Regions from separate parts of the Homo sapiens genome. Here regions 1 and 3 are each linked to region 2. The links come from fine-mapping of genetic effects on gene expression. A gene starts in region 2. Each other region holds a variant in brackets. All regions are shown on one strand. Distances are between the middles of the regions.

Region 1 (11,082 bases), 88 kb after region 2:
ATTATACTCTTAATCTGAACTTTACAGCAGAGGTTCCTCCATGGTTTTAGTTTGAGCTTAGCTGGCCCTCCATCAGCTGCATAGAAGCCCTCTCTCAGCAGTCCTAGTGTGCTGAACAAATGTGTTTTACCTCCAACTCTTCTTCTTCCTTTCCTTCACTTTCCCCCAAACTTCTCTTCAACTCCTCATCTGTGTTTGTTCTCATAATGGTTATTTACCTGTGCTCCTTTGATTCTGTGTAAAAAGCACTGCTATTGCATTTCTTGCCTTTCTTAGAGTTGTGCCTATGAAACTCTTCCCCCTGTTCGGTGGCCCATCCTGCCTGTCACTACCTGGACTTTTCTGATGGCAGAGACTACGCCTCAGACACCCAAGCACTCTTGCATAATGTTTGGCAAGGATGGCCCCATCTATCCTAATCTGGAGGCAACAGAGGGACAATTCAGATTTCCTCACAAACGTTTCTTGGTGATGTACCACTGGCATTTCACATCAAACCAAACTTCACTTCTTAATGAGGGGAAAACACCATGTGCAGGGCAGTATGCAAAGAGCATTGTCATAGCTCCTGACCTCAGTGACCTTGCAATCCAGTGAGAGCGGTGGGGCACAGACTTATGGAAGGATATATAATAACTCTAGGCAAGGCTGTGGTGGGTAAGTGCATAAAACTCAAAGTCAAGAGACCCAAAGACTAGTCTCCTCTCTACCAGGAACAAGGTGTCTAAACCCAATTTCCAGGGCTCAATTCTCTATTAGTAAATTGAAGGGAATAAGCTAGATCAGTGTTTCTCAAAGCATGAGATGTGATTTTTTTTTTAAGGTAACACATAGACCCTGAATTAAATAAGATTAAATCACATGGTAAGAAAGTTATTTCCTTTTAAATTCTCTTTCTGGTCACAAAGGGATGCAGCCACTAGCTGTTTCAGACTCAGGGTCTTTGCATACTGTAGAAGCTATGACTGATAAATAATGCTTTTTAAAAATTGTATTCATTTTCACACAATATTTTGTTAGTACTATTTCATTTATGCAAATTTATTTTTAATATATTTTAGCAAAATAAATGAGTTGATTTAAAGAAATATATCAAGAAAATCATAGACCATGTTATGTGAATATAATAAAAATTATGAATGTTGTGCTAAAAATGTGAAGCTTAAGAAATAAGTCAACTCTGAGGTTCTTTACAGTCTCAAATGTCTTTGATTTTTGTAATATTTCCGAGGGAATAGTGTGGCTAGTAGGAGAAAAATTAACATATCAAGACAACGTACTGACAACTCAATATGTCAAATTATCCATTAAGAAATTATCTGTGATATAGGTAGAAAGAGAGAGAGAGACAGATGATGATATAAAGATATATATATATTTATATGGTGTATAGAGAAGTATATAGATACGGATAATGTCTGCAAATATAATTATCTGTGATACAGAAAAAAATGGGAGATCTGTTTCCAGCTTCCTCTTAAGGGAAAAGATGAACCTTTGAATTCATGAGTCGGGATTTCTCTTGACTCAGGGGAAAAGTCATTTTTTCTTCATTTTTCTAAGTGTTAACCTCTAGAGGTGTTAAAACTGCCCTCTCTAACATGGAAAAGGTTCCTGAGGCTTTAAAGAGGAGTGGTCTCACTACAGGAAGGTGGACAGATGATGGGGACTAGAGAAAGAGAGAGCTGCTATTCTCCCAAATGTAGTAGACCCTCAGGTAGGGTGACTGTACTGAAAAAAAACAAGGATTAAGAGCAAGGGCTCCCATGATTCCAGTGACTCCCCACCCTCCACAATGGCCTGGGTAAGCATCTGGGCAATGACCATGGAGTGAGAGCCATGGGCAAAAGATACATAACTAATTACACCTGAGACATAACATTTTAAGAGTCAAGTGGACGATTTATTCCACATCCAGCACTTGGAAATGACATGACCACATACACTAATGAAATGCTATGAGCATATCCTGTGATTATTATCATCCTCATCTTGTGAATACAAATTTCACTAAACCCAACCTAGGATTGGATTTTCATGGTTTAGGTCATTTCTGTTTTGATATCCAAAAGTATTGTTCACATTTTTTTGAATGTGTCATATAAGTGTTCTTTTTAATTATAAATAATTACTTTTGAAAAGTTTCCCCATAGCATTTTGCAGACTGCCATGTATGTAACACCTATTTGTGGGAAAAAAAAATGGATGGATGGATACTGAATAAATTGTTTATAGTCAGATTTTCTCTACAGTCAAAATTTTCCACCCCATTAAAAACTTAAGGAAGCTTTTCCTCTGTTGCTTGGCTTCCAGTTCTGTGAAGTGGAAAACCATGATGAATATGGCAGTTTATTGCACCATATTATGTAATTAGTCCACCTCTAAGAAAAGAGACTTTTTGAAATGTGGTATCATCTTCATACATACAACTGGAATGTAGTGTGTGTGAGTTAGAGACTATAGCAGGAGAAAAAACCCTGGAATAGAGTCTAGCCATGAGCAAAAGGTTAACGGGCTCTTCGACCTCACTGGGCACTAATCTTTAGCCTTCCTCTATTTTTGAGGATGCCACAGGAATATTTAGAGCCTCCAAGAAGAATCCACAATTCTTTCCAACAAAGTTCTAGTTAAAGGCACATTTTGATGAAATGGATTCATATATCCAGCTCCTGCCTGGTTTCTATTAAATATTCCAGTCTTTCCTGTGAAAAATGGGGAGTGATTTCATGCTTTCATTATTCAAACTGATCTGGTTTCACAGCGTACTCCATGGCTATAGTCAGTTCAAAAAGAAGGAATATTTTGTTTTCTTGATTTTGCATGCAGTTCAGAAACCTGCTGGCTGCTGGACTCACAGTGGTGGCCATTCTAAGGGAGGCTTGATGGCAGGAACAGGTGACAACAGAAGCTCAAAGATTATTTGTCTATACTGAGCATGTTGTACTTTACCTCAGTTCTCCCATTTAGTCAAATGAATTTTATTCAGTTGAGAACACTTGCTTTAAAGGCCTCAGATGCAATATCTTTATGTTCCTACAACATCTGCAATTGCATTATAAGGAGTAATTTAAATGAAATATGGACAATGTCATCAACCGTTCCAATTTTCTGCCCCATTTCCATCCACTGTCACCTGGAACCTTATGCCCTAAGGTTGCCAACCCAATCTTGGCTCCTTGTTTTTCCTTCACAGCTCTTCTAGTTGGGGTTTCCTCCAGATTAATGGACACCAAAAGATTATTACTTCATTCTGACTAAAAACTAGAACTAAGAATAGAGAAAGGTTATAAACTCTTTCAGAATGAGAGAATTCTGGATTCTTCCTGCAGAAAACAACATTCGCATAATATCCTTAGAGAATGCATGAAATGAGCCTATTTAAGCTACAGTTTGCACATCAGTAAAATGGAAATAATAATACTTTTCTCATGGGACTGTTTTGAGAATGAAAGAGAGCACACAGACACCACATGTGGTGTGATATGTCCTTTATAAAGGAAAGTTGCTAATTTTTTTTAAAATGATAGTTTTCAAAACAATACTTTCTGTGTGTTCTATTAAACCTACTGTATTAGTCTGTTCTCATGCTGCTAATAAAGACATACCTGAGACTGGGTAATTTACAAAGGAAAGAGGTTTAATGGACTCAGAGTTCCACATGGCTGGGGAGGCCTCAAAATCATGGCAGAAGGCAAAGGAGGAGAAATGTCATATCTTACATGGTGGCAGGCAAGAGGGCGTGGGCAGGGGAACTGCTTTTTATAAAACCACCAGATCTTGTGAGACTTATACACTATCATGAGAACAGCATGAGAAAAACCCACCCTCATAATTCAATTATGTCCCAGTGGGTCCCTCCCATGACACATGGGGATTATGGGAGCTACAATTCAAGACAAGGCTTGGGTGGGGACACAGCCAAACCATATTACGTACCCTATTGTGTACTTCCTGACAAATCATTTGAAGACTCTTTGTGAAAGAAAAGCAAAAATCAAACATGATTCCTTCAAAGGTACTGTAGGTCAGATGGATGAATCACAGGCAAATGTGTCTGAGAAAAGGAAAGGCCAACGATGAAAGGTGAGAGAAAAAGATTCTAATGCAGGTTTCATTGCTTCTCCTGGGTCTATTTTAATGGTCTTCAAATAAGTTTTGCACGGTCAGTTTATCTTCCTGCTTCAGCCCTTCCTGGTTATTTCTGCTAGATGAACAGTTTTGCCACACTATGACAATTCCTTGTTCAGAAACCTTCAATGATCTCCTGTCTGAATTACATCCTAACCCACATGATCAGGTTACAAATTCCTTTAAAATCTCGAGAACACATGGACACAGGGAGGGGAACATCACACACCGGGGCCTGACGGGGGTGGAGGACCAGGGGAGGGATAGCATTAGGGGAAATACCTAATGTGGGTGACAGGTTGATGGGTGCAGCAAACCACCATGGCACATGTATACCTATGTAACAAAACTGCACATTTTGCACATGTACCCCAGAACTTAAAGTATAATTTAAAAAAAGAAAATAATTCCTTTAAAACCTCATCTCTCCTAGTTCTTCTTCATACACTCCAGCCACATTGGACATGTTTTATACTTATTGCATGTCTTATTCTTTTCCTGCCCTGGGACTTTTTGTATGTGGCTTGCCTCTCTGTAGATCTCTGTAGAAGACAAATTCAAAATATGATCCTTTTCCTAATATTCTTCCATGATCCTTCCAGTAAGAAGAACTCTGTGGGACTTTTGAATTTCCACATTCTTTTAATGCATATCTGTAATGACACTTAACCTGATCTATACTATAGTGTGCTTATTTTTCTGAGTTTTATCTAACAGATTAATAGCTACTTAAGGTACCAATGACATTTCAATTCTACTCCATGCAAGACCTAACACATTGCTGGAGTTCAGTAAATGTTTGCTGAATAGATGAATAAAGGACAGTGCTGTTATTAAAATTTCTTAGTGGGGTTGAGAGGCACGATAAAGGCCTCAGAATAAATAGCAATGAAATATAGGTAGAGCTAGTGCCAAATAGGAGTGTAAGCAATGGTTCAAAATTTCAGAGGAGAAATAATGAAATTGACAGGGAGATTTAGTCTTGGCCACTGAAAGTTTTAGTGGTCTCTCACAGGACATTAACATCTGAGAGCAATTCCAAGACCTTCTCATTCCCCACAAAGTAAATTAAAGCCAAATAGGAAAATGATCTTGTTCCATATACTAAAATGTTTTGTATTTTTCTATATGTAAATAGAGTTGTGTAAAATAGACAAATTTTTCCCCCATAGGACAAAGAAGCATTCTAAAACTCACATGAAGAACCCATAGGCTATCTTTGC[T/C]GAAGATAAGCTCCCTCTTTTGGACTATGATTTAGGTTACAAAATCTCCAAATTCTATTTCATGAGAAGAAATCAGTAGCAATGGCTTAAGGCTTAATAGTTTTGAAAAAGCAATAACATGATGACGTTTGAATGAATTATAAACATATGGATTAAATTTTTCCTTACGGAAATAATATGAAAATAATGAGGGTTCTTTTTTCTACATATCTGGATTTTACTGAAACTTTAAAAAAACCAACCCAAGAACTGAATAAATAAACCCATAAGACACTGAGCAGGAATGCTCTTATTTGCAATTATCATGTGTTGATTTGGGATTATAATGGAGTTAGGAAGATCTGTGAAAGGGAAAACACATCCTCCCTATCATAGCTTAGGTCCAACACCAAGTATTAGAAACCCAGATATAGACATTGTTCACTCCCACGGAATTGGGAGCTTAGAATTCATCTTTTGTCAGTGGTGGTTCCCATCCACAGTATCTCTGAAGATACATCCAACAAACTTCTGTAACTGTGAGGCAGGTTGAAACAGAGCATAGGATGCGCTAACTGAAAGCAAAAAATACTCACTGACCCCTGCAGAGAGAGCACAGCACAGTAGTCCTGCCCAGTACTTGTCTGGTTTTCACACTGAAAGTCCCATATCCCAAACAACCCTCAGTCCTCAGTGATCTGGGACAACTGGTCACCCTACCCCCAGTCAAGGATACACTTCAATGTGTATCCTCAGCACCTGCAGATCTTGTTAAAATACAAATTTGCATTTAGTTTGTCTATGTGAGTCCTAGGATTGTGCATTTCTAACAAGTTCTCAGATGATGCCATGCTACTGGTCCACAGACCACACTTTAAGTATCAGGGTTTAGAGTGTGCCTTGTGGACTCAGAGGTAGACTGAGACCCAGCTTCACCATTTACTAATTTTGTGTCCTTGGTCAAGCGACTTAACTTCACTAAACCTCAATTTCCTCATCTCTAATAGAGAGTACTAATAGTACCTTCCTCTCAAGATTGTTGTGAGGATTAATTGAGGTAATTCTGGGCACAGAATAAGCACTAAAGAAGTATTGATTACTTTTTTTATCATTGGAATTTGTATCATGTGTAATCTTCCAATAGATGGCTGAGACTGAAAATACAAATAAGTTGAGGAAGGTTTCAGGTAAATTCATGGTTGAAGGATTCATAAGCACTGATGTTTTCAAGGTGAATTAGAATGTTTGAGGCAGAGGCATTTTATCGGGTTGAGGGGGAATTAAGTCTGACTCAGCTGTATCATAAAGTTTATGTTCACTATAAAATACTAGTTTTTTATACTGTGTGCTATACAATCTACCTCCCTATTTTGAGTTCCCTAGAACACAAAAGGAAGATAGAAATATAAGTGTGTGTTGTCCCAGCTGCTGGAACAATAGGCCTTTTGCAGAAGTTTAAATATCTGACTCATAAAGAGGGAATTAGATCCACTGATAAGTTATGCCCAAGTCCCACCCTCAGTTCCAGTTGGCCTTTATGACCCACACTGCCGCTATGTGAACTTGCAGAAGTTATATAACATCATCTTTAAGCTTCAGCCTCCTTACTGCAAACAGAAATGATAATACCTACTTCATAGACTCATAAGAGAATCAAATATAAAGTGCCAATACAGGGCTGGCCTATGTTAAGTGCTCAATAAATACTGGCTAGTGTTCTAATTATCCTGTTGGTATAGTAATAGAACTATTTCTGTTTAACATTCATTTAGAATGGAGAGCCACTAGATTGATTATATCTTGGTTGTGCTGGTTCTTGAAATGTGATAATAGCTTAGACCTTCACCTTCAGATTTCCCCTGACCACATGGTGAGGAGCCATTAAATGTTAATTCCCTGTAACTTTTGTGACCTTTAAACCCATCTTCATTCTTCTTCACTGGAGCAGAGCTAGAGTTTGATTATTTTGCCTATAAATAATAACCACTGTTTAGCCAATGAGCTGTGTTTGAAGCTTGTCAGTGGCTAATTTGACATGTTGTATTTCTAGAGATGAAAACTTGGGTTTGAAAAGGGAAAACTCACCAAAATCAATGTTAGGGAACAGCAATTCCTGGTGGCCAGGGAAGACAAAAGAAAGTTCTAGGTTGGAAAGATGTGAAACAGTGATGGTTATGTCAGCAGTTAGGACAACACATATTTATATTTCAATCCTCCCTTTATGGGCAAGACACTTTTTCTAGCCCCAGGCTTCATCTCTGATGCTGCATTTGAAGGAAGGGTAAAAAACTTTAATCCCAGGTCCAAGAAACAACGCTATCATCCAGTTAGAAACTTTGCAAGCCCTTTGGTTTGCCACTTGTCTCAGAATAAATAAATAAATAAAAGTCACTCACAAACCTTTCTTTGGATTTACTTGACCAAACTCATGAATGCTATCTTACTTCTCATGCCTGGATGCCCTCACTGGATATAGAACCAGGTTAGAAGCTCAAGCCTCTTCAAAGGGTATTGGGAGAATAAATGCTATAATGTCCACGTGACTCCAACAAAGCTTAGCTCATAGAAAGCATTTGATGAATATTCATTGTCTTCCTCTCTTCCCCTATGTTTGACACCTTAATGTGTGTATACCTGTTCCAAACATTAATGTCTATTGTCTACTCCACTTTTGAGATATCGACAAAGTCTAACATCTCACTGTAGATGTTCATGACTGATATGGAACACCTTGAATTTCTGTGTCATTTAGATCCACTATTAAACGCTGGATACCGTAGGCCCCACAATAAAATTACCCTGGGTAATTACATCGCTACCATTAGCCCCATTAGCCCTATTGTATTTCAAAAATCCATTTCACAGTTTGGCAAAAAAAAAAAAAAAAAAAAAAAAAAGTAGGGTCCTAGTTTTGAAATCCCTTCAAAAACTCATGAATTTACCTGAAAGCGTCTTTGACTTATTTGTGTTTTTAATCTCAAACACCTTTTACAAGATTACTTCACTGATACACACTATGAATTCCAATAATTATGAAAGCAGTTAATACTTCCTTAGTGCTTATTCTGTGCCCCAAATTATCTCAATTAATCCTCCCAACAATCCTTTGAGGAAGATACTATTATGACTCTCTATTACAGATGAGGAAATTGAGGCTCAATGAGTTTAAGTCACTTGAACAGAGACACAAAATTGGTAAATGGTGAAGCAAGCACTCCATCCTGATATAAAGCCCTTGCGCTGTAACCCCATGGAAGACTTCAGTAGGTAATTGCCATAGCCTTTCACAGGTTTAAAATAGGTGAATCTGCTACAATTACGACCTGAGAACTGAGATCTGCACTCATATTTACTCCAACCCCCTCTAAATCTTTGCTCCAAACTCCTCTAAATATTTATTCCAAACCCCTTTGCAAAGTAAGCATACACATTTAGTCTTTATTTTTCATATTTTAGGACTACTAAAATATGAAAATGCATTGAAAATGAAGCCCATGTTGTTGGAAGCGTGGATCAATAAGGATTATTTGGTCTTGGCTAAAGGTTTAGTAAAATGTACTTAGATAATAATAATTAAATGAATGACTTAATTTGTTTTTCTTTCAAGCTTTATTCTTTATAAGAATTCAGTTTTCTTCACACACAGCAAACATATGTGATCCTGTGTTTTTATTTATAGAAAGAGCAAAAGCCAGGAAAATTAGGTAATTTGAATTTTAGTTAGAATCCTGTCTTTTTGATCTAAGTGATTATGTGAAAGTGGCTTGCTTTGAGTTTATCTTCATTTCTGTAATGATGGTTTGGACTGGTAAACTTCAATGGCACTTTCCAATTCTGAAATTTCATAATCCTGTGAAAACTCTTCATTTTTAATCTAAAATGATACAGTTGATATTTCTGCTGTCTAATGTGCCTCATTTATAGAAATGTATAGAAATTATTCCTGAGAATATATATGTCATTGCTCACTATACTAGAAAGCAGCATTCCTTATGGTAGATCACAAAGTTCTCATAATTGAGTAGGTAGTGACTTAAAAGCTTGGGCAATTCAGCTAGAAAGCTAAACAGCCGTCAATAACCGAACATAATTACTTCTAAAAACAGGGAAGGAAGTTGAGCATGAAATTCTAACTAAATAAGCATTTTATGATTTCTTCCCTCACTGACAGGCCACTGGGTACATTCCCTGTTCTGGGTTTAAAAAAAAATCCATTGGTATTTTTCTTAGAAAATGAAATATCAGATACAAGCAGCGATTTTCTAAATACGTAACAAAAGATATGTTATGAGCTCCCACCAATCAGAATAGAGGCCAAACACAAATAATTTCTACCCTGAACATAAGCCTTAAGAAACTAAACCAAAGAAAACACAACTTAAAAGTACTTTCCCTCCCCCTACCCTCAAATGAGAATGTATATTTTTAATCCTTTAAAATACAAATATGTTTGTCTCCAATTTATTTTATTTTTTTTTGAGATGAGGTCTTGCTTTGTCGCCCAGGCTGGAGTACGGTGGCACGATCTTGGCTCACTGCCACCTCCAACTCTTGGGTTCAGGAGAGTCTCCTGTCTTAGCCTCCCAAGTAGCTGGGACTACAGGCCAGTGCCACCACATCTGACTAATTTTTGTATTTTTAGTAGAGACAGGGTTTCACCATGTTGGCCAGGCTGGTCTTGAACTCCTGACCTCAAGTGATCCACCTAGCTTGGCCTCCCAAAGTGTCGGGATTACAGGCATGAGCCACCGTGCCTGGCCAGTCTCCAATTTTGAAAGAAATAATTAAATAGGGAAGCATCCACCTGATCCTTGCCCTACTTCTTATTCCATCGTATCCCACCAGGCCACCAGGTCCATCCACACAGGCCTTCTTTACATTTATTGTAAACAATACACACATGCCCACCTCCATCCAGAATGCCTCTTCAGATCATGAACAACAGCTTCCTCTTCAGATCATGAACAACAGCTTCCTTTTCATCATTCAGTATCAAGAGAGTGTCATATCACCTCCTTGAACAGGTTATCTCTGGCCATTAATGTTGCCAACACCTTGTTAACTCAAAACCTTACTCTGTTTTATTTTCTTTTTAACATTTAGTGACATTTGAAACTATTTTCTATTTACATTCAGTACTTGTTTATTTTCTGTCCACCCTACTAGGATTTCCATAGCTCAGGGAACTTGGACTATCTTGTACATGCCCAACCAATAGTAGTCCATCAATTAATATTTTCATAATAATTTTAGTGCTAATAACAAACCTAGTAATTTATGGTCACCTACTACATGTCAGGCTCTTTATAGATTATCTCCCTAATTATCAAATTAGTTCTATTAATCTTTTAACAGATGAAGAAAAAGGGGCTTCTGAGAGTTTAGAGAAGATAACAGGCCCAAGATCTCAATGTTCTTAAGGATGTAGCTGCAATTATAATTTAAAGTTCTGACTTCATTCCTGGCTATAATGACTCCTTATGCATTCCATATTTAATAAATCAAGTAAAAAATTTCCATTGCTTTATACTATCAGACATCACTGGATTGTATTACTCTTCAATAATTCTTAACATTTTATTTTTAAGTTCTTTGTACCTTTTCCTTAATAAACTACGTCTGTAAGAAAATATGCTACCATGGTGAATCTTTTCTTACCATGAATAATAATTTTAAAATTTAGTTCAGCCAAACACTCACATCACTGTATATAATGTCTTCTGTAAGCAGAAAGATATTGAAACAATGAGAA
Region 2 (11,082 bases):
TGAGATGTGATCTCTGTTTGACATCAGGCATTCTTAGGACTGTTTTTGCAAGGTAAGTGAGACAACTAAGGGCCAGAGACATTGAATAGCATGCCCAAGAAATGGTAGCACTGCCATTCACATGTAAGTCTGTTTAACTCTCTATCCTATGTCCTTTGCCACACATGAGGAAGACTTTTGTTTTGATTTCTGCTCACTGGGAGATTTTCCATTGCTAACCTAGCATCAGACTTCACATAGTAGGTAATTGCTAAGTATTCAGATAAACGCCAAGGTGCAAATCATAAAGATTCATAATTGAATCCTGGCTCTACCACTTAATGATAACACCTTGGGCAAGATACTCATCATATTGGAGCCAATAAATAGAGATATCTTTTCTATTTCAAGTTACTTAAAGTGAAAGTCGAATGGGAGAAAGGAGCAGTGCTTCGTTAGCCATTAAACTTTACAAAAACTAAATGAAGTAGACTCATTTATGGAGAGGACTTCATCTGCACTTCTAGACATGGCATAAAAACAAAATAAAAAGTTTTATAGGTTAGAGAAAACCATCTGGTTCAAGGGTAATGATCTAGTTTACTGGAATCCTTTTTAAAAGAAGTAAGTGGGACAGTCTCCTAATAAATGAAGATTAATTATACTCTTTAAAAACCCCAGCAGAGGGGAAAAGATTTGGAAGTGAGGTGATAATATCAAACCAAAAGTATATTGGATTTCCTAGGATCAAGAAAGTCATACTTGGTATATGGGAAAAATATCCAAATCCCATGCTTTTTAATCTTTCTGCATCCTAAGATTCAGTTAAACTGCACTGTGTTTAAAGGCTTTTGCTTTATTATCTCCATGACTGAAGGAATTCAAATACTTTGTTATGATTTCCACTGAAGAAGTGAATCCTAAAACCACTGAATTATGAAAGTTACTCTTGGATCACGTGGTGGAGAGCTAGTTTAGATACAGCTGGATGGGCCCTACTTCCAGAGTTTGCAGTTCTGACAGGTCCCCAGCTGATGTTGATGCTGCTGGTTTGGGAATCAGCTCTGAGAACTATTGTCTTAGATGAGTTCCCTCAAGCTGTGAAATACACATCAAGCTAAATGTCCAATTTTGAAAGACTGAATTAATTTGTCAAATGCAAACTTGTGTATGGCAGCTCATCTTTCATATAAAGATCAAAGTCTTTTTGGGACTAACATTTTGCATCATATTGCTAGGTAGCAATAGGGTAGTTTTTTACCAAGAGACAACATTAAACCATATTTCCCTCATCCAGATTTCTTCTAGGTTGAAAGGTGCTTCAAATCCAGCATTCTAGGATTGTTACTTCCTATTTACCTGCTCCCTTTACTCTATGGTTACCTGAAAATCTAAGTGACAGCCCTCATACATTGTTTACCTTCAACGTAACACTCACTCAGCCTGCCCCATTCACTTAGAATTTTTACCAGTTGACTTAGTTAAAAATCACTTGCCCCTAGCTAGCTAGTACAAATGTAGTAGGGAAAACTTGCCAGGCTGCTTCTATATTGAGGTAGTAACTTTTAGGTTCCAGAAATTTCATAAGCTTTCATGTTTTGCTATCTAGATGATGCAAGAACTAGGAAGGTTAGAAAATTAAGTATTGGGATTAAAATAAGTTTGGAGGGGGTGATATAAGTAGAGAGGAGATTCTACTTCACTTAGTAACTTCCATTTTTAGACCAGGAAGCAATTTGTTCAGATTCTACTTCCCCTAGAGAGGCAGGCTTCCTTCCAGGGTAGAAGGATGCGGGAAGGGGAGTAACCATGGCAACCTGCCCAGCTATGTGGGCAAGGATAGTATGGGGCCTGCACACACTCGGAAGAATTTTTATTTCTAGCCTAGTCATTCAGTTTAATCCGGGTGGTCCCTCCCTTCCCACTTCCTTCTGTGACAATGCTGACTTCAGGGGGAAGGATTGCTCCTTCTCTGTCAGGAGTCTGAGAGGGTGTGGGGAGGACTTAATTGAGACCAGCGAGGTCAGCCTGACCAAACCAAAGTGCAGGCTTCCAGGACGAAAACAGAGAGTAACTCCCTGTCTGTTCTAGCATGAGCACAAGCAAACGCACTGGCTTTATTAAAATCAAGTGCTTGAATAATTAACCTTTTTCAAGTAGGTGAAGGGTATTCAATTTTCATGAAGAAATTTTCCATTTGCTTTCAGTTTTCACAAAGACACTTAATTCAGTTGTTCAGGGGGGAGTAATAACAAACAAACAAAACCTTCAAAATCAGATGGGAAAAAGTATTCCAAGTATATTAGATTAGCTGTCTTCCCAGCAATCCTGGGGTAGGTACTATTATTCTCCCCAGATAAGCAAGCTGAAGTACAGAGAGGTTATGGAATGTGCCCAAGGCCATGTAACCTGCAACCCTGTAGCTAAGATTTGAACCCAGGAAATGGTACTTCAGAAGGTAGTTCTCAACTACTATCCAATTGTGCCCTGTTGGAGGCAGCCAGTGTTGAATGTTAGCCCTCTGTGTCCGTACCAGTCATCATTTGTTCCCCTAACCAGGAATTTGCTTGTTTTCTGTCTTTAAGTAAAGACTGAGGAGTCTGCTTTCCTTCTGATTTCCACCAGTTAATCCAGTCAGGATATGCTGATATTATGAGTTGGGTCTCCTTTAAAGACACATATCTGGTGTTAAATCTGATTCATCTGGCCGGGTGTGGTGGGCTCATGCCTGTAATTCCAGCACTTTGGGAGGCCGAGGTGGGTGGATCACTTGAGGTCAGGAGTTCGAGACCAGCCTGGCCAACATGGTGAAACCCCGTCTCTACTACTACTACAAAAAAAAAAAAAAAATATTATCCAGGTATGGTGGCGGGTACCTCTAATCCCAACTAATCAGGAGACTGAGGTCACAGAATCTCTTGAACCCAGGAGGCAGAGGCTGCAGTGGGTCAAGTTCATGCCAGTGTACTCCAGCATGGGCAACAGAGGGAGACTCTGTCTCAAACAAAACAAAACAAAACAAAACAAAAATCTGTTTCACCTAAATATGATTTTGGCCAACCTTTGTGCAATTCAGCGGCACAGCTTCAACTTTGGAATTACATAGCAGTGCCAGGGAGAATTTTAAAATACCACATCCTGTTACTCAGGTGTTTCATATTGCCAATCTGGTTCCCATTCTGGTTCTGTCTAAAGGGTAAAAAACCTTATGTGTTTGGTTAGTTACCTAAACCTTCCTGGCCAGTAAGCTTTCGAATCTTTCCAGCTGGGGAGGTATGTTCTGATGAGCATTAGGACAACTTCAAACCCCAGGAGGGCTCACTCTCAGCAGCTTTCCCAAGCATTTCAGCATCTTGGCTTTGTCTTTAAGAAGAGCAATAATTAAATCCTCAGGTCAAAAGAATGAGGAAGAGAAACACGCAGAGCCTTCAAAATTATCCAGATGAAATATCAGTGGTAGCAAACTTAGGTTTATGGACATATGAGGGTAGAGTTAGAAATGAAGCAGCATAAGAGCCTATGTCACAGCAAAGCCTCCTGCTTGGCCAGGAGCACTCAGCAAGGAAGATATCTTCCTGCTCCCTTAACCTTCAGATAATCGAGGCCTGGTTGAGCAGGCCAGTAAATATCATCCCCAAACAGCTGGTCAGCAGCTGCCAGAGGTCCCTGTACTACCTTCATGCCAACAAGTGCCTTAAAAGCCGTACCCTTCAACCCAAACAAGGCCAGTGAAATCCATTCAACCTTTGGAGAAAGACAACAAACAGGCCTAATGCACAGGAATTTGGACTTCCAGTTTAATCTGAAACTATAAAAGTCTTTAGCAGAAACACAAACTCTGGAGTTTGCCCTTCACAAATTAGACAAGGTTTGTAACAAGTGCTTTCTTCCCTCACTTACATCCTCAGGTAAAGATCAACCATCAAGATCAAAGATCCCCAGAATGGCAAATACATACGTGTATGGGCTCAAAGTTGGAAGACATTCCTCTACCATCTACTTATTCTGGTTATACATTAAAGCATAGGAGGGCATAGCTGAAAAATGACTGGTTTCTAGGTCAGTCATTTGGATGAGAAGGGATCCTTCCAGCTGGGAGTGGGAAAAGAAGGGGGAAGTTATTCACCAACAACAGGAAAAAGAATTTAGTTGGCCTTAGGAGGAAACTGACTAAGGATTTGGAAGAAGTGGTCTGTCCCAGAAATCCACATTGGCAAAGACCACTAGGTCTTCTTCATGCTTTCTCTAGAAGACTTTCCCATTGTACTCAAATACTCCCGAATTCTCAAGGCAATAAACTTTCTTACAGTGTCACTGAGGGCCATCTCCCTTCCAAGAGGGGAGACACAGAACCTGGAGTGGGCGGGGCACCTGGCTCAGAGAAAAGTAGCCTCCCAAAGTCTGGCTGCTGGGGTAAGAAGCATGGTGACAAGCCATTTGGTAGCTGCAAGCTCCCTCCTCCCCAACAGCCAGTAGGTGCTTTTGTGTGAGAAGCCAACCTCAAGACTGTAAGGACAATCAAGTATACATCTCATCAAAGCCATTCCAAGAGGCTTATCAGACATCTCAAAGGCATTTTTTGTAGATGCCTGCTTTCCACTCCCATTACTTCTGTTTGCATTAGTTATATCTTACCTCCTTCTCCCCCATGCCCCTGCTTTGCCTGACTAAGGCCAGAAATTTTTTCATGAAGTCACTTTATAGAGCAATAGCAACATTTACTATTCGTGAAGTCGCCCCTCCATAATTTTTAAGTCTTTCCATGTGTCTGGAAGCTTGTTTCTGCTCTTCTCGGTTTACAGAGCGGCTCTCTTCCTTCCAAACAAAAACTAAAAAGAAAGGGGAAAAGGTGGGGGGTGGTTGGGGTGGAGATAACACCCAGATTCCTTAAGTGTTTTTAATCCAGTTGAATTTCCCTTTGGACTCAGCTCCCTGCTGAAACTGTCTGCGGACCAGAATTCCAGGCTCAGAATTAAGTCAAGAGGGAAAGACAGCAGAAACAAATAACAGAGTCAGCTCTATGCTATGAAAACCGCTATGTTGACTGAGGCTCCACGGTTTTAACCCATTCATTTTTCCCCCCTTTTTTAGAATTCTTACTTAATCTTTTTAACCAGCTTACAACAGGCAGGCAAGCACCATATAAACCATGCTCCCTGCGCCGGGGGATATAAAACAAGTTTCTTAAGTCCCTTGGGTAGATACTTCCTTAGGAATGCCGGTGTAAGACAAAAGTTCACATTTTAATGCCATATGTTGTCAGTCACCAGGAAAAAGCTCCTTATGGGCACAAGCCAGGTCCCCAGCCTTTGTCACACAGCAAAAATAAACACCCTTCGAGGAGTTAATTAGGCGGTCAGCAGCCACCTCAGTGTCCTAGGAGGGCTGCCCGCAGACCTTTTACACACACACACACACACACACACACACACACACACACACACACACACACACGACACAAAAGGAGGCGTTTGTTAAATGTCACAAGCTGGGCATCTGGAGTCGGATTCGAAAGGTAAATACATTCCGCGGAAGCATTCCTCAGATGTCAGGCCACAAAACTGCTGGTTTCCCCAAGCACAGGGTCTCATTTCTAAGATTCCCCACAGCCCAAGGTCTGTACTCAAAGAAGGGTAGCGGGGGGCGGGGGGGTGAGAGAGGGGGAGCAAAGGAGAGAAGGAGATCTTTAAAAAAAAAATGGAGCCAGAGGGAAGAAGGGTTTCGAAGCTACTCACCGGCTAGCTATTGCCTCCGTGAAGCGAGCATGACTTCCCCGCGCCCGGAGCCTCCAGGCTACAGCGCAGCGGATGCGGCGGGCCTCGCTTAAATAGCCGCCGGCCGGGAGCTTCGGAGCCGCGCGGCCACTCCCGGCGAGAGATATGGTTCTAATCAGATGCTGGCAGCTGAGGACTCCCCAGGAATGTGCCAGGATGTTTTTGCTGCCTGGGCTTGGTAACTCCCCCTCAACGTGTCTGCAGAGTCTTCCAAACTTAACTGTTTATTAACTCGCGCTGCAGCGGCGCAGAGGACCCCGCTCCCCTGAGCTCCGCGAGCCCCACCAGCTGGGGGCGATCGCAGGGACCCAGCGACGGGAGGGGAAATGTGTTCGGGGAGAAGTCAAAAGCCCCAGACCGACGCGGGCGGGGGGCGGGTGCAAATAAGGACAGGAAAGGGAAGCTCTGGAGGAAAGGGGTGGGATCCACCGAGCTTCGTTTCACAGATCCGTTCCCTGGATTGCCACTGCGAGTGATGTGGCACACGGAGTCATCCTAACCAACCCGTTGGGGCCCTTTGAACAAAGGACTGCCTTTACTCCTGACTTTTCTGACAAGGGACAACGGTTCCTGCGCAGATCTGCAGTTTCTAAAGTTGATCGCGCGATTGGATTTGCTCCCCTTAGAAGAAATTAGTGTCTCCCTCATTGCAGATGCAAATGCGCTTAAGTTAGTGGGAAATCTATGTGTGCATATGTGAAACATACTGTATTTACCTATGAAATATAATCATATATATGGATATAAAAATAATATTCTCTCTGAAATCGATATGAGCAAAACATGTTCACGTCTATGTAGCCTATCAAATAAGTTATAATTCTGATACAATCAGAGATTCTATACAGGCTTCCCTTACAGTGTATATACACCTATATGTAGACACATAACATGACTTTATCTGCATGAATTTCCATAGCACTTCCTATAACTCTAGGAAAAACATGAACTGCAAGAAATAAAATATTTAAAAATGTTAACGTAGAGTGCTGAGCGGTAGAAGGTACTCCGCAGCAAATCCTAATGAGTGTTAACAAGCTGAGAATTCATTTTCTCCATATTTTAAAATCAAGAATTATTGTAAAACATCCACAGAAGCTCTGTTGCTTTTTGGAGAATTCTGAAATTACTCTTGTGAAAGACGTGTCTCTTTTCCCTTTTTTTAAGAAAAAAATTTAATTGTTTAAAGTCAGAGGCAGCACGTAGTAAATGTGAAAATGCTAAATTGTATCTCGGATGGGAGGGGGTTATTGATTTTATCGAGTAAGCAACACAGTGGATTTGCATTTTACCTCTGGAAACTGAGGGTTCAAATAGGGCTCGTGGGACATCAAGGATATATTTTGTGGTCCGTGCCTAGCCTCGACTGCAAAGCCACTGTGTAATTTGGGGTAGCTCAATGTGAGTGGCAATGTCTGCTCTCAAGTAGGTCAGGCTTGAAACAACCGTTGTTCGGGGAGACTGAGGGGTGCAGAGCAGCACAGCTGGCCCAGAATTCTACTTCCCCAGCCTCTACTATTTCTCATCCCCTGACACACCTAGGGGTGTGGAGGCAGGGAGGGCCATGCTGGCAGTTTTCAATATTCCTCAGAGGTAATTTGCTATTTTAAAAAATGACTTTGTGTGAATGACAGGAAGTATACAAATTTTAGTCCTAGGATAGTATTCTATTTATAACATTTATGCAGAGAAATGTAATTCTAGTACATTTTAGAACACAAGGCTTTGTTTCTAAAATCTAGAAGTCCAGTTTCATTTCTATTGGCTAGGTAGCTGGAAAAAGGGCTGCTGACTTCAGGCAAATAGAGACTTTGATAATTAGAAAGACATGGGTGTCTCTTTTAACCTCAATATGTAATATTTTCTAGACTAAGAAGTGCTCACTCAATTCTATTTTTTTTTTTTTTGAAAGACTCTTACCAAGAAATACTAACTTATGTTTGCTCTACCCCACCAAATGGAAGGGATTTGTCTAAGAAGCCAGAGGAAGAAAATGATTTCATCTGCTATGAGTTGTAGTTTCAAGAGAAGACTTTGATGAAAACAGTTCATTTAAGAGCAGTGGGCTCACACTTACAACTTAAAATAGACACCTCTTATTTTGCACAGAAATCTGAAGAGTCGACAGTGGAGAATTCTGGTTTGAACTGTATTTTTATATCTCTAGGGCACCGATATTGCTTCTGGCAGTAATTCAATGTCCTGCTCACATTAAGAAAAAAAAAGAAAAGAAATTTAACTCTTTTTATCCCTCGTGAAACATTGTCTCTGTCTCATCTAAGTTGTTCACTTTTCAACAAGTCTAAAATGAACATCTTTCCCTCTGGAGAATCACGCCAAAGCCCACCCAGATATTTACCCTGCCTAAATAATGGTCTTTTCTTATCACCACTGAAATTTATGTTTAGAAAATTAAGGGGAGGAAAAGTCAGTTCAATGTTTGAAAAACAATAGTCTTTGAATGGCAATTGTCCGTTGCAGAAAACCTGCCTGTGAGAGAGAAGGAAAAAATAAAATAAAACAAATGACTGTGCTCCCAGCCTAGGAAAGGGGTAGTTAATCCCGTGATGGCTTGCTGAAGAATGCATGGTTTATTATTAAAGTAATCTCTTAAGATTTTCCTGGAATGTGCTTCCACAGCAACTCTGCCTGTTCGACCTATCCTATGCATGTGTCTTTTCTTCCATAATTAAGCTGTTTTCCTCTGTTAGCTCACAGACCTAATCCTTTATCCTTTCTCTCCTCCTTCTCCATCACTTCTTCTATCCCCCTCTCTACTGCTCTTGTCTTCCTTAAACTGCCCCTTTTGAAGCCTGTCATTTCTCCTGAATTGTAAATGGCACTTTGGAACTGGCTGTAAGGTAAACTGCCTGTGTGCCTTTGATGCCTTGCTGGACACTTAGAGATGTTAAAATCAAACAAGGATTTGTTGAAGTGGACCTAGTAAGGTCACATCTCTCTCTCTCTCCTTTTTTTTTTTTCCTTCTCCATGTCATTAAAAAAACAATGAAGAGAATGGCTATTGTTCCCAGAAAATGTTCTTTGACCTTGACCAGTCCTGCATATTTAACATTACAGAAAAACTGACCCTACCAGATTTGGTGGCTGGCAAGTCAAAACAAATACTGGAGGTTTTTTTTCATATCTCTGTCTATCCATCTACCTGTCCATCTTCTGATCTAAAATATTTGGAAGATAGTTTCATAGAAGGCAGCCTGTTTGTGTTTTGTTTTCTTGCTTATACCCCTATAGCATCTCAGAACTAATATGTATTTTTCTGTTTTGTGCAATTTTAATGAAACTCAGGTGGTAGACTACTAGGGTACTTGGAAAAATTGGTACTTGTAAAATGAAGAACATTTAAAATTCAATAATATAAATGTATATAACTAATTACACCTCACTTATCAATATAAATTTTTATAATGAGAAATTGTGAAAGGCAAGTAAATACCCATAAAAATTACCATTCAAATAAATACTGTCTTACTTGGAAAGAAACCTAGCAGGAGTTATCAAAAATGAAAATACATAAAACCCTGCAGGAATTACTAATATTAATTGTTATTGTAGCAAACACATACACTTCTCTATCCTAGGAGTAAGAATCTATCCACTAGAAATAAAGCACATGTATAATATGCAAGGATTTTTTTTTTTTTATTTTTCTGAGATGGAGTCTTGCTCTGTGGCCCAGGCTAGAGTGCAGTGGCAAGATCTCGGCTCAGTGCAACCTCCGCCTCCCGGGTTCAAGCAATTCTCTGCCTCAGCCTCCCGAGTAGCTGGGATTACAGGTGCCCACCACCATGCCCAGTTAATTTTTGTATTTGTATTTTTAGTAGAGACGGGGTTTCACCATCTTAGCCAGGCTGGTCTCATGATCCACCCGCCTCGGCCTCCCAAATTGCCGGGATTACAGGCATGAGCCACCACTCCCTGCCCCCAAGGTTGTTAATTGTATCATTTATAGCAGCAGGAAGCTAGGACAAAATATGCCTGTCAATGGAGAATGACTGAGTATGTTATGACTTATCCATACTGTGAAGTCATATGTAACCATTCAAAGGAATAAATTAGAGTCAAATTTTGTGACATGGGAATATTCCTTTAGGTTTTTTTGAGTGAGAAAAGCAAGGTACAGAAAAGCATGGAAAAGATGTTTCTATTTTAGTAATATAAAAAGCAACACCTATTTATATATATTTGGGTATATATGTTTGTGGGTATATATGAAGGATTATCAAGGAGGTTGCAGTACAGATTACTAGGGGCCTGGTGGAGACAAGGGCAGAGAAAAGGGGTGGGAGCCATGCAAAAAGGAAAAAACTGAAAATAGTCTTTATGCAGGTATAGGTCACATTTATGCATTGAAGTGAAATGATATACACGCAGGTTTGTGGGTTTTTTTTCAAAAAGATTATATCATTTTAAGATAAGGAAAGGAAGAAAGGAAATCCTACGAATAGTTTTCATGGAGGTCTACCTTTAGGCTTTTCAAAAGTGAGTATTCATCAGTATGCTCATTGCTTAATTCAGCCTCCAGAGCAATAGTTCTCAAATTGTAGTATTTACGACAGTCATCCCGGAAGTTGGCTACTAGAGTAAATTCCTGGGCTCAGCCTCAGAGACTTCTCTGGAAAGGTCTGTGGTGGGGGTACCAGGGAATCTGTTTTTTGTTTTTTGTTTTTTGTTTTTTTTTTTTGAGACGGAGTCTCGCTCTGTCACCAGGCTGGAGTGCAGTCACGCGATCTCGGCTCACTCAAGCTCTGCCTCCCGGGTTCACGCCATTCTCCTGCCTCAGCCTCCCGAGTAGCTGGGACTGCAGGCACCCGCCACCACGCCCAGCTAATTTTTTGTATTTTTAGTAGATACGGGGTTTCACCGTGTTAGCCAGGATGGTCTTGATTTCCTGACCTCGTCATCTGCCCGCCTCGGCCTCCCAAAGTGCTGGAATTACAGGCGTGAGCCACCGCCGCCCGCCCGGAATCTGTGTTTTAATCAGCACTTCCAGGTCATTCTGATGCAGTGGTCTTGGGGACCACACTTTCAGAGATGCTGCTTTTCTCCTGAGAGAAATGGTGAAACCGCGTCTCTATTAAAAAAAACACACACAAAAATTAGCCAGGCGTGGTGGCGCACACCTATAGTCCCAGCCACTCAGGAGGCTGAGGCAGAAGAATTGCTTGAACCCAGGAGGCGGAGGTTGCAGTGAGTGGAAATCGCACCAATGCACTCCAGCCTGGGGTGACAGAGCAAGACTCCGTCTCAAAAAAAAATAAAAATAAAAATAAAAATAAAAAGACAAAGAAAACAGGTCTAACCATTCACA
Region 3 (11,082 bases), 120 kb after region 2:
ACAAGCTCTCATCATGACATAAACAAACAAACAAAAACAACACACCATCCTGTAATACAGTTTCACTAACAAGATTCCTTGCACATTCCAGATAATAAGTCAGATGGCTTGAGGGTCAGGTGAGTTATACCCTCCAGCTAACTCCCCCTGCTTTGTCAATATAAATCACAGCTGGATCATTTCTACAACCTGTTCTTAAGGGAAGGAGGCACATTTCAAAAATATTTGAACAGAAAAATCTTTGAATAAGTATGATTGCTTCATTTGATAGGAAAGAATGAAGGAAATTAAATTATGTCACTGGGGGCTTGCATATAACTTAACTTACTTCCATTTAATTTTTTCAAATAATTTATGAAGTAATTATTATTCTCCCCATTTGAAAGATGAGGAGGAAATGGAATCAAAAAGGCTCACTAAATTTCCTAAGACCACAAAAGGCGGAACCAGAATACAGACCCAGTTTTCCTGGTTTTTCAGAATTTATATCTATCATTTTAGAGTGCCAAAAGATTGCTCTGTTGAATGCAAAATAAGGTTTCCAGTTTAACAGATAGATTTGCATTAAGCCATCCACCCTCTTATATTCCAAGATGCTGGCTGTGGTCTTGGAAAAGACACCTTCTCCTGAGGATCTATGTAAGGAAATTGATGTGACAGGCAAGAGAGGACTCAAAGTTTTCTAGCACGGTGTCTGGGGAGATGGTGATGCATTCACTGAAGATGTGATTTACTAGAAAAATTGACTGCAAAAGATTTTAATGAGTCCAATTTGGGACATGTTAAGTTTGAAGTGACTTTGGAACCTATCAATTCTGCTGTCTAGAAGGCAATTGGCGAACAGAGCTCAGGAGTGAAGTCTGGGCTAAATTTAGGCACGCTCAGTGTATAGATGGAGATTTGAGTCTGTGAGTGGGTAAGATTTCTCAGGTTTCATATGTATGAAAAGTCAGGGACCAAAGATAGAATTGTATGAATTGCCAGAGGGCTGGGAGCCGAGGAAGAATACCAGTGAAGGAGGCTGTACAGCAATCAGTGAGATAGGGGACAGTTAGAATGTACTGGTGTTTCTGAAGAAGGACACAGAAGAAACTTTCAAATAAAAGGGAACTATCAACTGTGTGCAATGATAAAGAGAATTTATGGCTGGGCGCAGTGCCTGTAATCCCAGCACTTTGGGAAGCCTAGACACGAGGATCACTTGAGCCCAGTTTGAAACCAGCCTGGGCAACAAAGTGAGACCCCTGTCTCTACAAAAACTCAAAAAATTAGCCAGATGTGATGTCATGCACCTGTGGTCCCAGCTACATTGGAGGCTGAAGCAAGAGGATCGCTTGAGCCCAGGAGGTCAAGACTGAGTGAGTGAAGATCATGCCATTGCACTCCTGCGTGTGCGACAGAGTGAGACACTGTCTCAGAAAAAAGAGAGAATTTAAGTAGGGCGAAAGCTGAAAAGGGGTCACATGATAAAAAAAAATATAGTAAGTCATTTGGAATACTTTGAAAAGAAAAATAATTGTGTTTTATTTATGGAGTTTCTAGACAGTGTTTTCAAATGACAAAGTCAATTTTCCACTGTTAACCAACTCTAGAGATCACGCTAATTTTTCATGTACATCAAGCAATACAATCATACGAAAAAATGAAAGCTTGCTACTAGGTAATTAGGCATATGTCACATCATCATTTGAGCTGAATGGAGTCACCTGGCAAGCTTGATGCATGGAAAGACAGCTTGTATGGCTGAAACAGAGTGAGAAGAGAGGACAGATTTAAGAGATGGCATCAGATAGGACTTTGAGGAGAGAGTGCAGGTCTTGAAAAATGATTGTATGGACTAGGATTTCACTCTGAATGAGATGGGTAACTTAAGGAGATTTGGAGTAGAGGAATGACATGCTGTGACTTATGTTTTCACAGGATCACTCCAGATACACTGTTGAGAAAAAAGTATGGGGCAAGGGGAGATGAAAGCAGACAGACCAGTCTGGAGGCTACTGGGATCCAAAATCGACATAAGAGTTGCTTGGACTAGGGTGGTAACTGCAACTATGGAGATAAGAATTCAGATAGTAGATGTGTTTTGAAGGCAAAGCTCACAGAGAAAATACTAGAAAGAAATTAGAAACTGTGCATACACACATTTGTTTTTCCTAGGGCTTTTTTTTTTCTCTTTCAGTAAAAACCAGCTGATTGGAGATGGAAGCAATGTTGAGATGAATTGTTTTCCACACTGAAAGAAACACAACGTAGTTGGATGATAATGAGAAAACTGTAGTGGTAAGGAAAAACTTAAAACAGGGGCAAATGGCCAGAGCAATGTCCTTGAATAGATAAGAGGGGAAGGGAGCTATGCCAAGGGGAAGGAATGGCCCACTCCTGCTTAGCCCTCTGTACTCTGACCTGATACCTCCCAAACGCTTGAGTAGATCCCTTTTTAATGCTAATAACTCTGAAGGACGATCTATGTTAGTGGTTGTACTCTGAGTACTCACTGATGAAGAAAACACAGAATTATGACTTTTTTTTTTTTTTTTTTTTTTTTGAGATGGAGTTTTGCTCTTGTTGCCCAGGCTGTAGTGCAGTGGTGCGATCTTGGCTCAATGCAACCTCTGCCTCCTGGGTTCAAGCGATTCTCCTGCCTCAGCCTCCTGAGTAGCTGGGATTACAAGGGCCTGCCACTATGCCCAGCTCGACCTCCTGGGTTCAAGCTATCCCCTTGCTTCAGCCTCCAATATAGCTGGGACCACAGGTGCATGACATCACGTCTGGCTAATTTTTTGAGTTTTTGTAGAGACAGGGGTCTCACTTTGTTGCCCAGGCTGGTTTCAAACTGGGCTCAAGTGATCCTCGTGTCTAGGCTTCCCAAAGTGCTGGGATTACAGGCACCGTGCCCAGCCATAAATTCTCTTTATCATTGCACACAATCGATAGTTCCCTTTTATTTGAAAGTTTCTTCTGTGTTCTTCTTCAGAAACACCAGTACATTCTAAATGTCTCCTATCTCATTGATTGCTGTACAGCTATCAATGTATAGATATATAGCTCAGATATATATATATATATACACATATACATATATATATATATATAGAGAGAGAGAGAGAGAGAGAGAGAGCTGGGCATGGTGTTCCATATATACAGATATATATTCGTATTTTTAGTAGAGACGGGGTTTCACCATGTTGGTCAGGCTGGTCTCAAACACTTGACCTCAGGTGATCCACCTGCTTCGGCCTCCCAAAGTGCTGGGATTACAGGCATGAGCCACTGTGCCCAGCCTGACTTTATTATCAATACTAACAAGCATTAAATTACATTTAAGAAAAGTCATGCCATAGGCATTTTGTTATTGCGATTCAGACCATACCCAATGTCTGGTGCATATATAGACGAACATATCCCTTGAAACTCTAAAGATTTACGCCTACAGTTCACAATTTGGAAAGCTTGCTTTAGTAAAACTGCAAAGCCCTTGGTTTTCTGAATATGCCTGGGTTATTTTGTACATGCTGTTTCCTCCAGGAGGCCCTTTCATCTTACCCATCCTTAAGGGCATAGTATAGTTTCTCCTCCACTCAATCACAGTTAGACTTCACATTTTCCTTTGTGTTCCAATAACCATTTATTCTTTCTTTTTTTTTTTATTTTGAGACGGAGTCTCACTCTGTCACCCAGGCTGGAGTGCAGTGGCGTGATCTCGGCTCACTGCAAGCTCCACTTCCCGGGTTCACGCCATTCTCCTGCCTCAGCCTCCCGAGTAGCTGGGACTACAGGCGCCCACCACCACGCCTGGCTAATTTAACCATTTATTCTTGCACTTTGAAATACTCGTACTCCATTTATGTAATAATTGAATATACAACTTAAACCTTTGCACCCTTAAACACTAAATATATGTCATGTGCAAATACATATGTGTATACATATGTTTTCTCTTCTATCGTCTAAGGTTATTTCAGAATGAAACTATGTCGTGTTCATTTTTGTTTTCCAAGAGCGGATAGTTCAGACTAAATGGAACAGAAAAATGTGAGAGATTGGATTTATTTTGTGGTGTTCCAGAGGACAGAATTTAGATTAGTGGGCAAAGTGGAGAACAAGATAGACTTGGCTTAATAAAAGGAAAGACTGAATGACGTTTTGAAATTTTAAAAATGGGATAGACTGTTATTGAAGACAATGAGTAACTGAAACTAGCCAAGTAATTTTTCTCCCTACGACTATTTAAGTTCCTAGCACTATACCAAGTATATAACATATAGTATCACATTTAGTCTTTATAATGTTCTAACAAATAGAGGCATTTTAGTCATCCCGGTTTTACTTGAAATGGTCAAGCAACTTGGCTCAGTATGCAGCTTGTAAATGACAGTGCAGGAATTAGAACTTGAGTCTGGGTAATGTTCGGCTCTAGATATTTAACCTGAATGCCTTACTGTGTAGGAGGGATTCTCACGTTGGGTAGAAAGTAAAAGTTACAAAGGTTGCAAAGGAATATAAAATACTAAAAATATGCAAATGACCTAAGTAGCTTCCTATGCTTTGAGTATAGTTGAGCAGGCCTGCTTTCAACAAAAGAGGGGAGAGATAGGCCCTTGAAAGAGAGAGAAACCAGTCTATAGTGAGGGGCTCAAGATAAAAGTCTTTTAC[T/G]TCTTTTTACCTCCATTTATTCTAAGATCGAAATTATCCTTGATTCAGGATGACAACGGGTCAAAGATCATTGATAACCATATTCTGATGAGATCAACATCCAGTGGGGCTTTGGGTAGCTTCGAAGACTGCTTCAAATGTTGAGAGGACACATGAGCCCTTGGTCACTGGGCATGACTCATAGACTATGTCATTAATATCACCACGATTCTCAGCATATGCCTGAAGTACAGCAAGCACTTTATTAATCTTATCTCCTTTCTCCTGAGTTATCTTTGAGTCCATACATATTCTGAAGTAGTTTTTTATTAGAATTAACATATAAAAGAATCGTTTTTTATTTGATAATGTATTTTCTATGAATATAAGAACTAATACTGTACATTTATATGGTGAGCCACTGATCTAGTTCTTCACAAAAGGAGAATGACATATTTTTGAAAATCTTTTATTCTTGATGTATTTATTCAAGAAAATATACAATTAAGTAGCTATATGGGACTAAGATGTTGAGCAAAAAAAAAAATCCTATATGAACTTTCTCATCATATTTCAAGATGCTTGCTCTTTCAGCAAATAATCTGACTTGACATTGAAAAGCTCGGAGGACTGAGGGAGGTATTACCATCTCATTCTATTGTTTCTGTTAGTTATTTTGATAATCCACTCAGCATAAGTGAAGAAAGCTTTATTCAAGTGAACATCAACTTCACTTTCCATTGAACTGTGACCTTAAAAAACCAATCTCTTAACTTCCTTTGGGGAGACATATGACTGACTGCCTTGTCAGCAAGCTCCTTTTCCTGAATCTAAGTTATTTCCTTTCCTACAGAGAAAAATTGCTGTTATCACTTCCAACTGTTTTAGTAATGGCCCTTTTCATGTACAGTAAATGCTTTTTTTTAAGTGCATGTCTCTTCCTTTTTGCTTATTAGCTCAAAATTTGTTTATCCTAAAGAAAAATGTAAGGATATAAGCACATTTCATGTTCTTTGGAAAAATCAGCATTTACACAGATTTCCGACACAAAAGACAGCTAAGAGTTCTCCAAAAAGTCTATTTTAAAACATACATTTCAAATATCTAAACACAAGAGAAGCATGGTCTAGTTAAATCCAGCATCACCCAAATACTTCCCAATTTCTTTATCTTATGAGTTTTTTTTTTTTCAGTTTTTATTCTATGTGGCTTTTCTCTAACACTTCACACTGGAACTGCTTCAGTCGGGCTGGACATTTCCTCTTTCCTTGGCTTTTGAGACACTGGTCCATCCTGATTTTTTTCTCTTGATATCTTTATCTCCAGCTTCTTCACTACCTCCTCTCCATCCTTTTTCAGTTCTTTAAGTGCTCTGTCCCAAGCTCCCTGCTCCCTTTACATACTCTAACTGGACATTCTCTCGTGCACTCACCTAGCTTCAAGCCTCCTCTATTCACTGATTGTTCCCTCATTTAGCCAGTCTGCTTTGAACTCCAGGCCCAAATGACTCCTGGGAAGCTCCTCCTAGATGTTCTTCATCACCTTAAAGTATTGCATCTCCAAATGAACTCATTCTCTTCTTCTCAGCCAGTTCTTCCTGTGTTTCCTATCTCAGCAAGAATATCTGCATATCTTACACGTCCAGACACCAAAGCTTAAAATCCCTTAGTCATTCTCAATTTAATTCTACTATTAAAGATTTCTCATCTCTGTTCCTTCTCTTCCTTCCTCATTGTTATATACTGAGTTCATGCACTCACCAGCTCTCCAGATCATGTCGTCTCCCAACTCCCTAGTTGCTCATCTATTTCATATTGATATTGAGACTTACTGTTAAAATGGTATTCCATGCATCATTATTTCACTTTAAAACCTTTAACAATTCTCCATTTTATATACAGAAAAATTCCAAACTCCTTAACCGGTTTGGAATTTCCCATTTTCAATTGGAATTTTCACTCCTTACCAGTTAAGGAGCTTGGAATTTGAATCAATTGATTTGGTGAGGCCCAGCCCTCACTATATTCTCACCACCCCGCTGACAGAGGCATAGGCATTAACTGCCTCACAATCTTTGTATCTTTTTGTCTTTGCTCATGCCATTATTATCTCTACTTGATATTATTTCCTCTATTTTTTTTTCCTGCCCGATGATCGATGCCATTCATTTTTTAAGAGCCCTTTCAAATGCCATCTCTTCTTTAAGTCTACCTTGCCTTCTCCAGCTTTGTATGTTCTCCCTCTGCCCTGACTGCCCTCAGCCCCTACCTTCACACTGGCATCCACAGTCCTGGATTTTAAATACTATACAGTAGGAAATGGCATTTAGAGAGCAGGGAATACATTTTCTTCTTCTCTGAATTATAAGAGTCTATCATTTTGTTCAACTTGTGGTAGGCATTTAGTTCTTATTTGCTAAATATGTTGAATTAATGGATGATGATGAAAAAATCTTAACAGCGGCCCAACTGAGGCCAAATACCTATTCTAAATATCCGTATGTTATCTGTATTTTTTTTTTTTTCTTCCAAGGAACTTTGTTTACCTTCCACATGTAAGAAGCTCTTAGTGGGACTTCTGAGGTTGGTAATTAGGACCAAGGCTGAGGACAGGAAAGTATTTAATATCTGAACTGACAGTCACCAGAGTCAGAGCCAAAGCTTCTTAAGAGGTGATGGATGCAGCAAACTGCTGCCAGCCTCCGTCTTCTATATAATAAGACTGGGAACAAGACAGAGAGGAGCAGATCCAAGGGTCATTAGAATGCGGTGCGTTTGAGATAAGAGGAAATTCCCTGCCTTCCCCAAGGGAGGGAAGGGAAATTAGAGTACCTGGTCTTTCTTCCTAAAACCTCCTGAGAGGCTCTAAGAGACTCATTTACAAAGGCTGTCATATAATTTAGTTACCTAATTGGACATCTGCTGAGGAAAAGGACTTGTGGATTTACCTCTTCATCATAGGAGCAGGGGAGAACAGTCTTGGAGAGAGAAGAGATGTAGGGGTAGTGTGGATTCACCCAGTTTCAGAGCCAAGACAGGTGATGCCTGAGGTTCAAGTGGATGCTACTTTGAATGTAGCTGGGCTTGTTCAACCTCCTTTCCAAGACAGATTCCCGGCAACACGAGGCCATGCACTATATGGCCAGCAGTGAGAGCTCAGGGGCTTGAAAAAGTTGGCTTAAAATCACTGAAGCTCCAAAAACTCATACCTTTATTCCCCAGAGCTAGAATTTGAAGGCCTGCCTTGCAGATGATATCAACAGCTAGGCTGTGCTGGCCAGAAAAACAGCAGGAACCAAGAGGGAAAGGTTATGATAGCAGCCTGCTAGCATTACACTCTTTCCTTTCCCTGTTCTACCTCTCAGCTCGATACCATGAAGAGGAATACAACAAGGGGAATGCAAGGTGATGGTGTACCTGAGGCAGACTCCTAATTAGAGAGGGTGCCCGTTCCTACTTGCACTGGGTAAAGTGGAAGAGGAAAGAAGGGGAGAATAAACTAATGTTTGATGTTTTAAATTGGACTAAGCCTTAATATCAGAAAGCAACTGGAAACTATGGAGCTACCTTAGATGCCAGAGGAGAATGAAGTGTTGGTATAAAATAATTGGAAAAGAATGATTTAGAAATACAAAGCCTTCTTATTTCTGATTAAGTTAATACTGCTTAATAAATGAGATGTTTATGTAAAATTATTGAAATTCATTGAACGTCTGCAAAGAAAGAACAATTTCAACCCCAGACTACTATCAATGCAAACCTTCCATTACTGATTTATTGCTGGATCCGACAGGTAATATCTCATTCACTACATCTCTAATGAAGTCTCTGGAGATCAGGGTCCCCTTGGAGGACACACAGAATGCACAGTCTTATTCTAATTAAAAAGAGTTCATTGTGTAAAGAAGAAACAAACATGTTAGCCCCAAGAGACATGTTAGCCCTGCTTGGGCCACAGTTCAGAATGAGTACCTAGCCAGTTACAAGATGCTTCAGAACTTTCTGTATCCAGTGACAGCCCAGCTGATAAGTATATCAGAAAGGATATTACTGTAAGCTAGTCATATTTGAAAATAGCTGATATGTTAGCTCTTTTTTATTGAGAGCAGATATACAAAGTATTTCATGATGCTATAGGATATTAACAATTATTTCTCTCAAAACTCTTCTGAGGGAAGACTCGGCTATTATTGAATGAGTTCTGTTGAATTCTCTCTGTTCCCTCAATTCTTCTACCTCCACTGCATAAATATATATTGCATACTGGCCAAGTGCAATGACTCACACCTGTAATCCCAGTACTGGGAGGCCGAGATGGGCAGATCACCGGAGGTCAAGAGTTCGAGACCAGCCTGTCCAACACGGTGAAATCCCGTCTCTACTAATAATACAAAAATGAGCCTGGCATGGTGGCAGGCACCTGTAATCTCAGTTACTCAGGAGGCTGAAGCAGGAGAATCGCTTGAACCTGGGAGGCGGAGGTTGCAGTGAGCCAAAATTGTGCCATTGCACTCCATCCTGGGCAACAGAGTGAGACTCCATCTCAAAAAAAAAAAAAAAAAAAAGACGTATATTGCATACTGTATTCTTTGCTTGCTGACTCTGTTACTGCCAGCCCTCTATCAGTTTCAGTCTATTTTCTGGACAATTTATTGCCTTCTCATATCCTTTTCCCCATAATATCTCTGAGAATCTGAAATGCTTTGCTGTAATGAAACTCCTTAGCCCATATAATATCAGCCTTTAAGGTGATTGTATTGCTTATACACCTGGTCTGAGAGATCATTGATTTTCAAATTCTTCCTTGAAAATCGTCTCTTCTGTTCTTGAATCCCCTATGTCCCAATCAATTCCCCATGAAGTCCATCTTTTCCAGGACTCAATTCACCTGAACTTCAGCATTCTCTTTGGCCAGCCTTCCCTGGAAGTCTACTTAGGGGGCATAGTTGACAATAATGTATATACAGCAGCCACAGAAATGTCTATGAGAGATATCAATATTTTTCAGATTTTAACTTCTGAAGTTCCTACAGGTAAGTGTTTTGTTGATGCTAGAAGAAAACAAGTTATAAGAGGTGTGTGAGCTTGATAATTGCTTAAGATGTTAATAGTCATTTAATCCTTAACTTGGTGGGAATCACATTGTGTGGCTGTAATGTAGGACTTCAAAACAAACCATCAGAAGTGTAAAGACTGGTTTTAATAAGCAGAGAGTTTGGCCTGCCTACTTTCCTCCCCCTCAATTTTTAAATGGGCCCAAGCAATTTGAAAACCAGAATGTACTAAACAGATAAGTTGATGTTTGTGAAACAGATATGTTGATGGCAGCATCAACATATCTTATGTGGTAAAGGGAGCTAAGTTTTTATGAGGCTATTATAATGGCTCTTTTATATACCCTGGAAATCCCATTTTAGACAACCATTTCCATCAGAGACTTCGGGATTGCAATAGGTAGTATGAGATATGTTACATTACGTGGTGATCGAAGTATCATGAAATACTCTTATGCTCTGCAGGCTTTTTATACAAATATGGCATGTATACAGGCAACTTATACAAATATCTAAGGCTTTTTCCTTCTGATTAAAAATTGTTTACTCTGGAATTTAACATTTATTTAATAACGTTTTAAAATAACACGAAGGGGTTTGCGTTAAAATAAGACGTATAAAAGCTGCTAGTATCTGTCAATATTTCATTCTTTAAGTATTCCCTGGTCCCGAAAATGAAATGTTGAGAACGTTGACAATTTCATTTCACAGGAAGAAACCACATAGTTTCTTTATCATAACAGCTCCCCCTGCTGATACAAAGTGAGAGCTTCGTAACTTCCTTTCAACTTTTCAGGGACTCTGGAAACATGGCTGGAAAACATTATTCTCAACTGAACCGTAGCCAGGAAAGTCTCAGGAGGGAATTCTTTCCTGACATAAAATTAAACCTGGCTTCAGCATATCTTAGGGGGGAAAAAGAAGGAAAACTTACTGTCGATGTTTCTTGGCTTGGCTTGCTTTCTGTTCTTAAAGCAACATTATTTTTAAAATCTGCAACAAAGCTTGTCATCTGCCAAGTCAGCCCAAGTCTCCTAGCCTCTCCAGTTAGGTTTCTGTGCCTTGTTGCCCTTTTATGTCCCTTGACTCCACTCAGACTGTTACCATGAATGGATGCCTTTTAACTTACCTGCAGTAGGAGCAAGTAGATGTCACTCTGTTTCCCATGGAAGGGAACCTGGTGCTAAAAGTCCCACAAAGCTCCAGGCATGGTGGCACCTGTGTGGTGATGGAGCTTCCAGGCCACAGATTATATGACCTGGTGCTACTGGCAAGAAAGTAGTAGGTTATTTATTCACCTGAGGGCTTATGCTGTTAGAATCATTGAGTTAAAAAAAAAAAAAGAATTGCCTCTACCAGGGCACTTGTAGGTGAAAGATTTCTTATATTGCATGCAT

The links. PIP is the estimated chance that this variant, and not a neighbour inherited with it, causes the effect.
Region 1: its variant is the best candidate, but not a certain one, in a credible set for the expression of DAB2 in monocytes (TOPMed, PIP 0.54).
Region 3: its variant is the best candidate, but not a certain one, in a credible set for the expression of DAB2 in whole blood (INTERVAL, PIP 0.71).

The regions. Positions count from the first base shown.
Region 1 is chr5:39,506,638-39,517,719 of GRCh38, forward strand. No RefSeq gene overlaps it. Among named protein-coding and RNA genes, the nearest start is that of LINC02104, 8.3 kb to the right of the region's middle. The variant T/C (reference allele first, on the strand shown) is at 5,352.
Region 2 is chr5:39,419,090-39,430,171 of GRCh38, forward strand. It overlaps DAB2 (DAB adaptor protein 2), which reads right to left and starts at 5,891. Exons shown (of 15, transcript NM_001343.4): 1 at 5,715-5,891.
Region 3 is chr5:39,537,306-39,548,387 of GRCh38, forward strand. No RefSeq gene overlaps it. Among named protein-coding and RNA genes, the nearest start is that of LINC02104, 22 kb to the left of the region's middle. The variant T/G (reference allele first, on the strand shown) is at 4,654.